Regions from separate parts of the Homo sapiens genome. Here region 1 is linked to region 2. Evidence: fine-mapped expression QTL. Tissue or cell type: blood mononuclear cells. Region 2 holds a variant in brackets; the other region holds the start of a gene. All regions are shown on one strand. Distances are between the middles of the regions.

Region 1 (2,919 bases), 150 kb before region 2:
ATTTTTACAGAGCACTGATTGGTGCATTTTACAATCCCCTTGTTAGCTACAGAGCACTGATTGGTGCATTTTACAATCCTAGCTACAGAGTGCTGATTGGTGCATTTTACAATCCTGTTGTAAGAAAAGTTCTCCAAGTCCCCACTCAACCCAGGAAGTCCAGCTGGCTTCACCTCTCAATAAAATGGCCTAGTATTTGCACATAACCTACGCACATCCTCTCCTACACTTTAAATCATATCTAGATTATTTATAATATCTAATATTATGTAAATGCTGTAAAATAGTTGTTATGCTGTATTTTTATTTGTATATTTATTTATGTTTTAATATTTTGGATCCAAAGTTGGTTAAATCCAGGGATGAAGAACTGTGATGATGGGAGGGCTCACTCTAACTATATTAAAGAATTAGGGTGGAAAGATAAACTTCCTTTCATGGTCCAAATTACGAACAAAAGTTGAAGCATCATCATTAAAATTTGCCCCCAAATGAAAAAGGATGCTAGTGGCTGGATAGCACTATCCTCCTTCCCTCAATTTATTCCTCAAAGAAATTAAAAGGGTTAGCAATTAAAAGGTTTAGAACATCCCCCGTGGAAGGTCACCCGTTCATCAGGTTGTGCCCAGGGAAATTAAGTTTCTGGCTTGCATCACCTCACTCATCTGGGCCACTGGGATAACTGAAGCATCTCACCTCTAGGCAAAGTGCAGGGCCTTAATGGCTAGTTAAGCCCTGGTCAGTGCTGAATTCCATATGACTAATGAGACCGCAAGGCACCTTTGGTTGCGCTCTGCCCCAGGGTGTCCTCAAATTTGTCTCACTGCAATAAAAAACAAAAGTAAATCTAGCTCCAGAAGGGGGTATCCCTCATTTTGGCAGGCCTAAAACAGTAGTAGACAGCAGTGTAGCAGTTATGCACACTAGATCTGTGACTCAGATAATCCTGGGATCTAATCCTGGCACCATCAATCAGACACTGTGGGAATTGGATAAGGTGGTTGTGAGAATTAAATGAAATAATCTTGTATATAGCATATAACCAGTGCCCAAGAAACAATGGTTTTTATTACTATCATTATTTTGGGAAACTTGTCCAACCAGGATATTTTAGATATTGATGAGTGCAGGGTGGGAAAAAAGGGGAAAAAAAAGTCTACTTACCAATCAATAAAAGGCAGTTTAAAGGACTGGAGCTGTTTGGGCAGATAAGTACATTAATCCCACCTACAGTTAGATAAGGGGTCACGTGGAAGGGTGATTGGACTTGTTTAGTAAGGCCCCAGAGGCGGAGGCTGAAACAGTGCAGAGGGTAGAGGTCAAGGAGAGACAAATTTGGATTCATATAAGGAAGCATTTGGGGCAGATTAGAGCGGTTGGGAAAAAACGGCATGGGCTGCCTCCTGAAGGGGTCAGTATTCCAATCTTGGTTACTCAGGATCGGAAGAAATCTTGATGGAGGAGTCCTGGATGGGATTCCAGAGATTTTGAGTTTCTAGACAACGCCTCAGACCGTAGAAGAACGTAGCCCGACCTGCGAGGCCAGCCTCGTCCTGCCCTCCTCCAGTTGTGCAGCTTTCCTGCTGAAAAGTCCTAAAATTTGACCGGGGGACTGGGAACCCCGCCCCCAAGCTGCCGCGCGCTCTGAAACTCCGTTGCTGTGGAGACGGAGGCGGTTGACCCAAGGATTCCGAACGGTGTTGGGGGAGGGGAGCCGACGTGGTTCAGGAACTGGGCGTGGCTTCGGTTACTGTGGTAGCGGGGACGCTTAGGCAGGGCCTGCGCCCAGTTTAGAGGCCAATGCTTCTCCCGTCCTTTGCATGGCACCCAAGAAGGAGAAAGGAGGAACTGTGAACACCAGTTCTAAGATATGGGAACCCTCGCTCATAGCTGCACAGTTCAATCAGGTGAGCCTTGAGCCCTTTAAGCCCTCCCTGCCCCCGGCAATGCCAGAGGCCCGGCCAGACCCTCCTAGGCGACGCCTTAAGGCTCGCCCTCTCTTCCGTATCTCTCCGTGGCCTGATGGTTCCAGGACCCAGGGTCCCAGGGACAGGAAGTGCTTGATAAACGAACGGAACTTAAGGGAACACCCACCAGGTGAGTCAGTGTGATTTCAAAGGTTGGTGAGAACTGCCTAGTGGGGAAGAGAGGAGGTGTCGCTCTGACACCTCCAGAACCTTTTCAGTGAAGTCGTCCAGATGGCACTCCACAATTGTACTGGAATTCCTTTTATGGACTTTTTGTTTTCTCCTGAAACCTTCTAAAGGATGAGAATCGCATCAAATCATCTGTGGCCTGGCCCATAATAGGGCTTTAATAAATGCTGAGTGAAAACAGACACGGAGTGCCTAGAATTACACTGTATTTAGTACAAGCGAGCCTTGTATAGATAGGAAAAGATGATTTTTTAATGTAATGCCCTGATCCCACTATATTAAAGTTTTGACATATTTTTAAGGTGTGGGAGATCAGAGCAATGAGGGGTTGGCGGCCAACTTACCCACAGAATGCCACAAAGGCACCAGGCAATCTACAAACCACCTACCACAGGACTTCAAAGTGCATGAGATCCCAGAATTCACTGGCTCCCCACCCAGCTTCAGTAAATGAGGAGCCCAATAGCTCTTGTCACCTGCAGCTGGAAATCCCCTTCTACATTAAGCTGTTTCTACGTACAAGTTAGCATTTGGGAAGAGAAAAGTTGTTTCTGGAAATTCCAGCCCGCCATTATGAACTACTTTGAAAAGTGGGGAAAAAAAATTTTTTTTTCATTTTATATATGTCTGTATGGTGCACTAGAGAGTCAGTACTTAAAGGGAAAATGGATCTAAAGTCTTGTGTTGCCTTCATGAGAAATTTTTACCTGTCTTTATTTTCCACTATAACTGTTTTTTTTTCCTATTAACAGTAATTCTGTTT
Region 2 (2,919 bases):
CCAAGTGCATTCTGTGAGTTTACAGCATTTTTCTGGTGTAGCTCTGGAGCACAGAGTTTGGGACCTGCTTCCAATATCCACCTATTGTAGCTCTTACTAAGATTTGCATATGCATACAATGCGTATAAGTTTCAGGTGATTCGTAGTAAATTCAATATTTTCTCCTAGTTCTGTCAATTTTGAGGGATGATAGCTCAATCCAAATTGAAAGGAAATAGCCAATTTTTTTAAAACAAAAAGAAGGGAAATGAGTCCAAACACTAAAAAAGAGAATGCGTTGTTGGAAAAATTTTTATTAACGACCACAATAATAATAGCTACTATAACATAATTTTTATAAGTTGCAAAACCATTTAACATTAATTATATCATTTGATGAATCATAACATTGATTATAGGCATACATTGCCTCAGCCAGTTCATTTTCTCTTCTGAAATTGAGTTTGAAATGTGACTAGAAGGCCTGCAAATACCTCCTTGGTCTACCTGCCATTCATGCCTGGAATTCCACCATTACTTTATTTCCTTAGGCATTCTTTTATAGAGGTGACATCTCTAAGCATTTCCTCTCCCTGGTTTTATATTCTATGCTGCCTTTTTATTTTCGTTTCAGGGATATCTATTCAGGTTGGTTCTATAGGTAAATTGTGTATCGCAGGGCTTTGGTATGCATATTATTTTATCACCTAGGTAATAAACAGAGTACTCGGCAGGTAGTTTTTGGTCCTCACCCTCCTCCCACCCTCAAGTAGCCCTGGTGTCTATTGTTCTCTTCTTTGTGTTCATGTGTGCTCAATGTTTAGCTGCCATTCCTAAGTGAGAACATGCAGTGTTTGGTTTTCTGTTCGTGTGTTTGTTTCTGTGCAGCATTGTGTAACCATCTTGTCGAGGAGCTTAATGTGGCATCCTAATCAGCCCATCTTCTATTCTATGGTTCCTCCTCAGGCCCAACTTTTATCAAAGTGAGAGTGGTAAAGGACAACCACAATTTTATGATTCATTTAAATGACCCTAAGGAAATTGTGAAAAAGGAAGAGAAAGGGGATTATTATTTAGAAGAGGAAGAAGAAGGAGATGAGGAACAAAGTCTTGAAACGGGTAAGCTGCTGTTTAGTGGTTTCTTTCTTCTGACTAATACTCCTGTCTCTGTCCACTCCACTCCATTAAATGAATGGCTTATTGCATGTTCTTTTTCTCAAGTTTCTACCAGTACACTCTCTTATTAATAGTGCATGAAGTTGCCTATTTTCCTGAACTGAACCCTAATGGATATTAAGCGTTATCTTTTTTCTTTACCAGACTTTATTTTTTATAGCAGTTTTAGGTTCATGATGAAATTGAACAGAAGTTACAGAGATTTCTCAATGCCCTCTTCC[C/T]GTACACATGTCCAGCCTCTTCCACTATTAACATGCCTCACCCAGAGCGGTACATTTGTTACAGTTGATGAACCTACATTAACATATCATTATCACCCAGAGTCTAAAGTTTACATTACCCTTGGTGTTGTGCATTCTAAGGGTTTGAACAAATGTATAATGGCATGTGTCTACCATTATACTATCATACAGAGTAGTTTCACTGCCCTGAAAATCTGTGCTCTGTCTATTCATCTCTCCCTCCTTCCTAATCCCTGGTAATCACTGATCTTTTTACTGTGTCCATACTTTTGCTTTCTCCATAATAGCATGTAGTTGGAATTATACACTATGTAGCCTTTTCAGATTGACTTTTTTCATTTAGTAATATGCATTTAAGTTTCCTGTGTGTCTTTTCATGGCTTGATAGCTTATTTCTTTTGAAAACTAAATAATATTACATTGTCTAGATGTACCACAATTTTATTTTCCCACCCACCTACTGAAGGACATCTTGGTTGCCTCCAGCTTTTGGCAATTGTGAATAAAGGTGCTACAAATATTCGTGTACAGGTTTGTGTGTGGACATAAGTTTTCAACTCCCTTGGGTAAGCACCAAGGAGTGTGACTTTTGGATTATAGGGTAAGAGTATGTTCATGTTGGAAGAATCCACCAAATCGTCTTCCAAATTGGCTGTACCATTATGCATTCCCACAGTAATGAATGAAAGTTCTTGTTGCTCTATATCCTCACCATTATTTTCTGTTTTAGATTTTCTCCATTCTATAAGGTGTCTAGTGGTATCTTGTTGTTTTAATCTGCATTTTCTGGATAACAAATAATATTGAACATCTTTTCATATGCTTATTTGCCATTTGTATCTCTTCCTTGGTGAAGTGTCTGTTGAAGTTTCATGCCCATTTTTTAATCAGGTTTTTATTTTCTGGTTATTGAGCTTTAAGAATTCTTCATACATTTTGAGTAATAGTCCTTTAACAGATGTCTTTTGCAGATATTTTCTTCAACTCTGTGTCTTCTCTTTTTATTCTCTTAAAGCATTACCTTTTGTTCCATGGTTCATTTGAATTTCCCAGTCTAAAAATTATCTTTGCATGAGTTACATTATTTTAAATCAATATTGCCCCATCTTTATTATCTGATAATAGAGAAAATGGTGAACTGAAAATAAAACAAGTCAGAAAATTCACAAATTCTTTACATATACCTTCAGATGTGTGTTTTCTATTCATGATAGCAAAGAAATGGAATCAACCTAGTTGCTCATTAGTGGTGGACTGGATAAAGAAAATGTGGTACATACACACTACGGAATGTTATGCAGCCACGAAAAACTAAAACATATACTTTGCAGCACATGGATGCAGCGGAGGCCATTATCCTAAGCGAACTAACACAGGAACAGAAAAACAAATGCTGCATTTTCTCACTAATAAGTGGATTTAAACACTGAGTAAACATGGGCATAAAGATGGGAATGACAGACAGTGGGGCCTATTTAAGAGGGAAGGTTGGGAGAAGGGTAAGGATCAAAAAACTACCTAT

What was found. PIP is the estimated chance that this variant, and not a neighbour inherited with it, causes the effect. A credible set is the group of variants that fine-mapping cannot tell apart.
Region 1: SPAG17 starts here. The variant in region 2 is the best candidate, but not a certain one, in a credible set for the expression of SPAG17 in blood mononuclear cells (TOPMed, PIP 0.69).

The regions. Positions count from the first base shown.
Region 1 is chr1:118,184,059-118,186,977 of GRCh38, reverse strand. It overlaps SPAG17 (sperm associated antigen 17), which reads left to right and starts at 1,750. Exons shown (of 49, transcript NM_206996.4): 1 at 1,750-1,907. The coding sequence starts at 1,821. It overlaps LOC105378930 (a long non-coding RNA gene), which reads right to left and starts at 1,748. Exons shown (of 4, transcript XR_947746.3): 1 at 1,165-1,748; 2 at 697-823.
Region 2 is chr1:118,037,471-118,040,389 of GRCh38, reverse strand. SPAG17 (sperm associated antigen 17) reads left to right here. Exons shown (of 49, transcript NM_206996.4): 23 at 946-1,098. Among named protein-coding and RNA genes, the nearest start is that of WDR3, 110 kb to the right of the region's middle. The variant C/T (reference allele first, on the strand shown) is at 1,377.